Linked DNA regions of Homo sapiens: region 1 is linked to region 2. The links come from fine-mapping of genetic effects on gene expression. A gene starts in region 2. The other region holds a variant in brackets. All regions are shown on one strand. Distances are from middle to middle.

Evidence for each region. PIP is the estimated chance that this variant, and not a neighbour inherited with it, causes the effect.
Region 1: its variant is the best candidate, but not a certain one, in a credible set for the expression of CHMP4A in hypothalamus (GTEx, PIP 0.51).

The regions. Positions count from the first base shown.
Region 1 is chr14:24,246,959-24,251,277 of GRCh38, forward strand. It overlaps TGM1 (transglutaminase 1), which reads right to left. Exons shown (of 15, transcript NM_000359.3): 15 at 2,156-2,583. The coding sequence ends at 2,355. Among named protein-coding and RNA genes, the nearest start is that of TINF2, 6.5 kb to the left of the region's middle. RefSeq lists enhancers at 1-164, 2,762-2,911. The variant G/A (reference allele first, on the strand shown) is at 2,351.
Region 2 is chr14:24,211,015-24,215,372 of GRCh38, forward strand. It overlaps CHMP4A (charged multivesicular body protein 4A), which reads right to left and starts at 2,474. Exons shown (of 6, transcript NM_014169.5): 1 at 2,395-2,474; 2 at 666-815; 3 at 401-578. The coding sequence starts at 2,425. It overlaps NEDD8-MDP1 (NEDD8-MDP1 readthrough), which reads right to left. Exons shown (of 7, transcript NM_001199823.3): 5 at 3,478-3,585; 6 at 3,296-3,381; 7 at 2,929-3,137. The coding sequence ends at 3,010. It overlaps MDP1 (magnesium dependent phosphatase 1), which reads right to left. Exons shown (of 6, transcript NM_138476.4): 4 at 3,478-3,585; 5 at 3,296-3,381; 6 at 2,929-3,137. The coding sequence ends at 3,010. RefSeq lists enhancers at 1,883-2,002, 1,957-2,765, 2,193-2,692, 2,329-2,623, 3,778-4,358.

The sequences.
Region 1 (4,319 bases), 36 kb after region 2:
GCCTCCAGCTATGAGTCAATTACACTTTAAGTTTTCCTACCCTGGTACTGGCTCCCCAGAAGTTTCTGTTTCTGTTTCTGTTTCTGGGCTTCTGCTGTTAAGTTGTGATTCTCTGTATCTGCCTTTTTGTCTCTCCAGTTTTAGGGGCAGCAGTTTGCCCTGTGCCCTCAATTCTCTGATAGATCCAACAAGAGTTGCTGACTTTCAGTTTGTTCAGCATTTTTCTTTGTGAGGACAGGAGTGAGGACTCCTAAGCTTGTTACAGGCCAGACTAAAAACCAGAGGTCGTTATCTTCATTTTTTTTTTTTAGATGGAGTCTCACTCTGTCGCCCAGGCTGGAGTGCAACCTCCACCTCCCGGGTTCAAGCAATTCTCCTGTCTCAGCCTCTCGAGTAGCTGGGATTACAGGCATGTGCCACCATGCGTGGCTATTTTTTTTTTTTTTTTGTATTTTTAGTAGAGACTGGGTTTCACCATATTGGCCAGGCTGCTCTCGAACTCCTGACCTTGTGATCCACCTGCCTTGGCCTCCCAAAGTGCTGGGATTATAGGCGTGAACCACCGTGCCTGGTCTACCTTCCCTTTTATAATATGGTCTTCCTCCTGAGCTTCGAATTTCTGTGCATGGCACCTCTCTTCGTGGCACCCATGAGTCAGAAACTCAGGCCACCACCCTTATCTCTGCCCTCCCTCCTCTCCAAATTGAATCTGTTATCAAGTCTAATCAGTTCTATTTCCTATACAACGTTCAAACCCACCCTTTTTTTTTCATTCGTACTGCTTCTACCCTAATTCAGGTTCTCCTATCTCTCATCCCAAGAGGACTCTATCTTCCTACCTCCAGCCCAACCCCTCTAATTTCTTTTCTATGTTGCTTTCATTATGAATCATGTGAAATGCAAAACTTGATCATATCATCCCTAATTGAAAGCTCCCCCTTACTTTCAGAAGAAAGTCCAAACTCCTAAATATGGCAAAAGGATTTTTAATGAACTGGCCCAAGCTTACCTCTTCATGCACATCCTTTGCCACTTTGTACTCATCATGCACCCATATGCCAGTCCTCATCCAGCTGTCTGCATTTTCCAAACATACTGTGTTGTCTCACATGTCTGTGCTTTACACGTGTTGGGTGATTCCTCTGTCCTTTGCCTCTTGGACTTGACTTTTTCTCATCTTTCATGGGTCATCTGGTAATCACCTTCATGAAGACTTTCTGTATCAGCCCAGGCAGAATCACAGTTCTCTGGGCCCCTCAGCATCCTGAACATCCCTCTACTACCATGCAGAACCTATCTCATAAGGTTATTGTAAGGATTAAATGAATTCATAAAGTGCTTGGAGCCTGGTTCCTGGTAAGTGTGACATACGCATTTACTGTATTTAGAATGTTTGCATGTCTGTCACCCCCACTGGACAGGAGCACCTTAAGGGAAGGGCTTGTTTCTTCTTGTGCATGTTACACTACTGATGCCTCAAGGTGTGCACCTTGTTCATGTGTTTACAGCTAGTAGGAACAGCTCAATTTTAGCTCTCTTTTTCCTGCCCCATGAGCCCTTTGTCTTGAAAGCCTTCTAAACTTAAAGGTTCAAGAAGACATGCGTTCAGGACCAGAATATCAGGTACATGATCTCATGGCTACTGCTAGCCCAAGAAGAATGCAGGCAGTGGGAATGCAGAAAAAAGAACAGCTGAGAAGAAAAATGAAAGGGCATCGTTCTTGATCTTCAGTGTGCACAGGAGTCAAACTCTTGGTGAGTTTGTTCTGGGCCTCTTCCACGGGGATTCTGACACATGAAGTCTATGGTAGGGCCCATCTATCTGGATTATTAATAAACATTTCAGTGATTGTAATAGAAGTGGTCTAGAGACTACACTTGAAAAACCCTGAGGTAAGGGAACAGTTTCATTCAAACCAAAGCCAAAATCCTCCAAAACTCACCCACAGGAAAATTTCCAGGTAGAAGAGAGTTATACAAAGAGTATCGACTCTGTCTCTCTGAGCCTCAACTTCCCTTGTGGTTCCCTCTCTCTGGTGAGGGACACCAGCCCCTATCAGTGGATGATACAGGAAGGCCATGTGCAGCCCTGGGACAAACCATGGCTCCATCCGTCTTGGTGTGGCATGGACTGAAAGATGGACAGAGCAGCAGCTTCATTAAAAAACAGTTTATTAGCATCTGTTCCCCCAGTGCAAGTGAAGACTGACTCCCTCTCCGGGAGCCCTGGACTCCCCCTCCGGGAGCCCTGGACTCCCCACCTGAGCTCCTGGGGAGCTGCTCTGTAGTGTGCCCCTATCTTGGGGCAATGTCCTTGCTCATCTGACTCCAGTCCCATTGCTCCTGGCAC[G/A]GGGCTAAGCTCCACCTCGAGATGCCATAGGGATGGTCTCTCCTAAGTGACTGTCACCTCCAGCGTCTGAGAAGAAGCCCCCATCCCCAGGGGCTGGGGCCACATCCACCTGGATGACACCGTGCACCTGGGAGAGCTGTGGGCTGTCCAAGCTGGCAATGAGCTGGCGGGGGCCTGGTCGCACAGGCACAAACGACTGGCGCAGTGTCACTGTTTCATTGCCTCCAATGTCCCTGTGGGCAGAGACAAGGTCATGGGCCTGGAGTAATTGGGGGTGGAGTGGGGAGTAAGAGCTGATCCAGGGCAGTCAGGAGGAAGAAGCAGGAGGTGGACCCATTCAGACAATTCCAGGCTTACCTGAAATTTCCACACCCAAGACCAGGATCCCCAGGGCGCCTCTGCATAGCCAGCTCAGCAGCCACCCACCAGCTGCCTGTGCTGGAACTCTCCCCATCGTCTGGGACTCCTCCCTCCCTGCTCCCACATCCACCTGGACAAAGACTGCTGATGCCACCGCAGAGGCCTCTCATGCCATCCCCTCCATCACCACTGCTCCTGCCCCAGACAGAACATCCTCATCTCACCTGGGGTTTCCAAAACCAAGAAAACTTCAAAATGAGACTTTGGGGGCCCAACACAATATTTTCAAATACTTTCAGTTTTGACAAGAGCATAGGTTGAAGAAAAGTAATCACTCTCTGCTATGATCGTCGTTCCAAAGAGAAAAGAGCATTTTCACACACCAAAACATTAGAAGGATGTTATCTTTGAAAAAAAAGGAAAATCCTTCCCAAGAACAGACAACAGACATCTTTAAATGGACATAAACCCTTATGTCTCTGTGTGTGTGTGTGTGTGTGTGTGTGTGTGTGAGAGAGACAGAGAGGTGGGTGGACAAACACACACACACACACACAACCAGTGTTTTCATTTTCTCCTTTCCACATGGGCCTCTGAAAAATTGATTCCCAGACCTCCCCTGGGAATCATGATTTCACTAGTCCTCTAACGGGACTCCTTGCCTCGCATCCCACTTTTGTATTCTGTTCTGCTAACCACTCAGAGGTGAACTAAATCCTTCAAGGATTTAGTGCTCCTTTGGTGCTTGTGGCACACGATCCTGGCTCTCTAACTTGACACACAGGCTCACTCTGACCCAGTCCCTGCTACTTGCACAGCCTCATCACCCCCCATCATTCCTCCTGCTGAGCAGCCCTACCGAATGCCTTCTTCCCCAGACTCACCTCCACAGTCATGCTTTGCAGTCTTTGCCTTGTGTGGAATGAGCACCCAGCTCTGCCTCCCCACCCTGGGTGTCCTTGTGAAGGCCTACTTTTCCTCCAAGGCCTGGCACACCACTTCCTCAGTGACGGCTCCCCTGAGCACCTCCTGCCTCTAGGAAAAGGAAACTCACCCTTCTCTGAGCTCCTCCAGCAATCTGCACGTTTCATTTTATACACTGAACATGACTGCATTTATATTGCATTTGCTCGTGCCTGTGGGAATTTGTCCTTCCTGCCTTTGCCTAAACCTTACCTCTGGTGCCCTATTCAACCCAAGCCTGCCGCTGGGGACCCTTTCCAGACATAGAACCTGTGCATTAACTATTGTCCTCTAAGAGAATGAGCCAACATCCCTAACTCCAAGGATGAGTTTTTTTCAGGGCAAAGCATTTGGCTTGGAACCTGGTTCTGAGGGGTTTCCCTGGACCACTCTACTCCCTTTTCTACCACTTGTTAGCTGTGAGGCTTATGAGAAGCTATTTAACTTCTCTGTTCCTCACTTTCTGGGTCATAAAATGGAAGTGAAAGTAAAAGGAGGAGTGGGATCTGATTATCTTGAAGGTGTTTCTGAGCTCTCTGAAGGAGGGAGGCAGGGATATATAATAGAACGTAGTATGATAGGAAGTCTATAAATTAAGTCTATAACTTAATGGCTAGGCTATGTCCTGACTGCTTACAAATTTGCA
Region 2 (4,358 bases):
CTCTACTAAAAATACAAAAATGAGCTGGGCACAGTAGTGCACACCTGTAATCCCAGCTACTCAGGAGGCTGAGGCAGGAGAATCACTTGAACCCAGGAGGCGGAGGTTGCAGTGAGCCGAGATTGTGCCACTGCACTCCAGCCTGGGCGACAGAGCAAGACTCCATCTCAAAAAACAAAACAAAACAAAACAAAAAAAGAATTAGAGAAGGCATCTTTCCTCCCTAGAATGCCCCAGGCAGCGAAAGAATTTTATAGGAAGCAAGGGGCAGATGGATGTCTAGCCATCACAAGTATCTATACTGCAAATTCACATTCTGAGAGGCTTTAAAGTTTAAAGTGTGATAGCAAGCCACTCTTCCCAGTGCCTGGGTCCCCTCCACCCCTCCCCCCGTACCCACATGTCCTGGTAGGCCTTCTTCATGCTTTGGGCAGCAAGCTCCATGGTACGAAGGACTTCTGCATTGGTAGTGGCATTCTCAATGGCCTCACGCTGAAACTCCAGGGTGGATAATGTCCCGTCAGTTTGTGCCAGCTGCTGTTCGAATCTTTTCTTCCTCCGCAAAGCCTGTAGGGCAGCTGACCCAGCCCATACCCTGAACATCAAGAGTCAGAAGCACCTGCTTCCCATCTGGGCCCTCCCCATAGGCTTGTTTCCCTCATTACCTCTCTTATTCTTGGTCCCATACTTCTTGGCTGTTTGTAGCTCCTGTTGAATCTTCTGCTCCAAAAATTCCTGTTTCTTGATCAGTATCTTCTCTGTCTCCTTCAGTTTCTGTATTGCTTCTTCAGGGGTTGGCCCTTTCTCCTTCTTCCCTGAGGAGTCCAGTGGAGTAGGCCCAAATTTTGTGAAGGAAAAATATTAGCCACCAATCATTGAATACATAGTATGTGCTAGAGACCTGACTGTGTTATTGCTAATCCCCAAATCTCTACAATGAACGTGCTATCTCTTCACTTTAAAAATGTGAAAACAACCACAAAGATGTTAAAAATCACAACTAATAAGAGATTGTGCAGGAATCAAGATGTGGCAGTATGAGTTCTAAAACCAATATTCTTTTTACTATTCCTAGCTGCCTTTCTTTTTTTTTCTTTAGGCAGAGTTTCAGTCTTGTTGCCCAGGCTGGAACGCAATGGCGTGATCTCAGCTCACCTCAACCTCCGCCTCCTGGGTTCAAGCAATTCTCCTGCCTCAGCCTCCCAAATAGCTGGGATCACAGGCATGTGCCACCATGCCTGGCTAATTTTTTGTGTTTTTAGTACAGACAGGCTTTCTCCATGTTGGTCAGGCTGGTGTCGAACTCCCAACCTCAGGTGATCTGCCCGCCTCGGCCTCCCAAAGTGTTTTGATTACAGGCATGAGCCACCGCGCCAGGACTTCTTTTTTTGAGACAGAGTCTCGCTCTGTTGCCCAGGCCAGAGTGCAGTGGCATGATCTCAGCTCATTGCAACCTCCGTCTCCCGGGTTCAAGTGATTCTCCTGCCTCAGCCTCCCTGAGTAGCTGGGACTACAGGCACACACCATCATGCCCACCTAATTTTTTTTTTTTTTTTTGAGAATGGAGTCTCCCTCTGTCACCAAGGCTGGAGTGCATTGGTGCAATCTTGGCTCACTACAACCTCCGCCTCCTGGGTTCAAGCGATTCACCTGTCTCAGCCTCCCCCAGTAGCTGGGACTACAGGCGCGTGCCACCACAACCAGCTAATTTTTTTTTTTTTTTTGTATTTTTAGTAGAGACAAGGTTTCACCATGTTGTCCAGGCTGGTCTCGAACTCTTGACCTCAGGTGATCCACCCACCTCGGCCTCCCAAAGTGCTGGGATTACAGGCGTGAGCCACCGCGCCCGGCCAATTTTTATATTTTTAGTAGAGACGGGGTTTCACCATATTGGCCAGGCTGATCTCAAACTCCTGACCTCATGATCCACCCACGTCGGCCTCCCAAAGTGTTGCGAGTACAGGCGTGAGCCCCCGCGCCGGGCTAAGAAGGCAGTCTTTCTTCTTCACCTTAGATCCCTCTTGCCCAGCACAAAGTATTATAGAACAAGGTTTTGAAAATGGCTGAAGACAGCAGGAAACTCGTCTTCAAGCCTGAACAGTGGGAGTCAGCACGATCGCCACGCCCTCAACTCAAGTCCCCTCCCAGATCTTGAGTTCTTCCCTCTGAGAGTGGGGGAGGACGGCGGACGGGAACAAGGCGCCCCGACATGGTGTGCCTTTTGGCACCGGCGATGAGCCTTGCTCCGCCATCGGCCGCCGGGGTTTTCCAGTCAGCCTGTCTCCTGATTCTCTTCCCCTGCCCGGCGCAGCGGTCCGGCCGAATCTCGCCGGGGTCTCCTCTTCCCCTGCACCAGCCAGCGCCTCCTGGCTGGCCAGTCCCACCCTGGCTCACCCTTCCCGAAGAGCCTGCCGAGACCACTCATCGCGAGCTCGCCTCTCCCGCCTCCGCCCCTCAGCGTCCTCCAGACTTCCGCCTTGCTCCTGGGAGGGTGATGTCTCATCACACAGGGACCAGCCTTGCCCAATCCGTCCTCAGGGCGCCGCCGCGACATCAAGAGGCGCAAACGAGACCACCGGTGTCACGTGACCCAAGCCACCAGCCCCAGACCGACGCGCTCCTCTTAAAGCTGCCACATCATTTTCTATTAAGTAAAAAGACAGTTCTATCTCCACCTGAGTACGTGCTTGTTCTCCGGAAGGAAATGTGCAGTGTGATGGCACCTCAGTGTATGGGGTCAGTGGGAAAACTTCATGCTCTTTACAGAGCTCAGGAAAGTGGGGTGGTATAGGTTCAAGCACTTGGGGTTGCCCTAAGTTTAGATGGCAAACCTGATGCAGTCTAATGTCTCACATTCTGGTCTCTGCACCTCAGGACAACCAACCCCATTTCACAGGCTAGAAAAATAGAAACTCCCCACACTGTGGGTAAAATCTCTTCTGTCACACACAGATGAACTTTAATAAATTACAAATGCACCTGAAAATGCCTTCTTGATTTCCTTTCAGTTTAGGCCTCAAATGGGCTCTCCTCAAGGCTGGACCTCAAAGGCCCAGTTTGGGCCTTCGCAAATGTCTCTAACCCTTGACTTAGAGTTTGAAGATTCATTCCATTCTGGATGTGAATGCAGGTAACACCTAGAAAGATAAGAAGTCACATTTCATTAAGCTTTCAGGGTTCTCCATTATTACTCTGACCTTTGTGAGTGCCACCTATAGGGCAAACTATCCAACCTGTATGTATCTACCTAATCCCTCCTAGGGACCCCAAATGGCTGTTCCTCATCACTCAGTACCCAGTTTGCTGACGTCTACAATATTCCGCCTCTCATCATCAAAGAAGATCATCTGGGAGAAAGGAATTCCAGTCTTCTGCTGCAACCTATTCAAGACAGGGCAGGAGTAACCAAGCTAGTATCTTGGTTTCCCAGGCCTCTCTGATACTTTCTCACCCTGCTCCTCCCTTATCTCCGCATACCTCTCAAAGTGTGTGATCTTGCTGCCTGGATAGATTTCCCGATGAACAAAGTACCTGAAGAGGTCAAAGAGCTCCAGTAGCTGGTTGGCCCCTTCTATCTCACTTGTCCTGCAAAACGGTGTAAAAGATGGGATTAGCAAAGTGAAGGGCCAGGGCTACGTTAACTTATTAAGCAAAGTTAGTAAGTATAACCAGGGAAATCAACTTGCTGTTTTTCCGGGATGGACAGGCATCCTCAGCCTCTGTTTAACTCCATTGCCTTCCTATTTGACACAATTGGTGCTGGGCCAATGTTTTAGCTTTTGTTTTGAGACAGGGTCTAGCTCTGTTGCCCAGACTGGAGTGCAGCGACCCAATCACGGCTCACTGTGGTCACGACCTCCTGGGCTCAAGTGATCCTCCCACCTCAGCCTCCCAAGTAGCTGGGACTACAGGTGCACGCCACTACAATTTTTTTTTTTTTTTTGGTAGAGATAGGGTCTCCCTCTATTGCCTAGGCTGGTCTCAAATTCCTGGGCTCAAGTGATCCTCCCACCTAGGCCTCCCAAAATGCTAAGATTACAGGTGTGAGTCACTGTGTCTGGCCCCACTTTTTTTTTTTTTTTTTTTTTTGAGACATTGTCTCACTCTGTCACCCAGGCTGAAGTGCAGTGGCTCCATCTCAGCTCACTGCAACCTCCGCCTCCCGGGTTCAAGCGATTCTCCTGCCTCAGCCTCCCGAGTAGCTAGGATTACAGGTGCGTGCCACCACGCCCTGCTAATTTTTGTATTTTTAGTAGAGACGGGGTTTCACCATGTTGATCAGGCTGGTCTTGAACTCCCGATCTCGTGATCCACCCGCCTCGGCCTCCCAAAGTGCTGGGATTACAGACGTGAGCCAC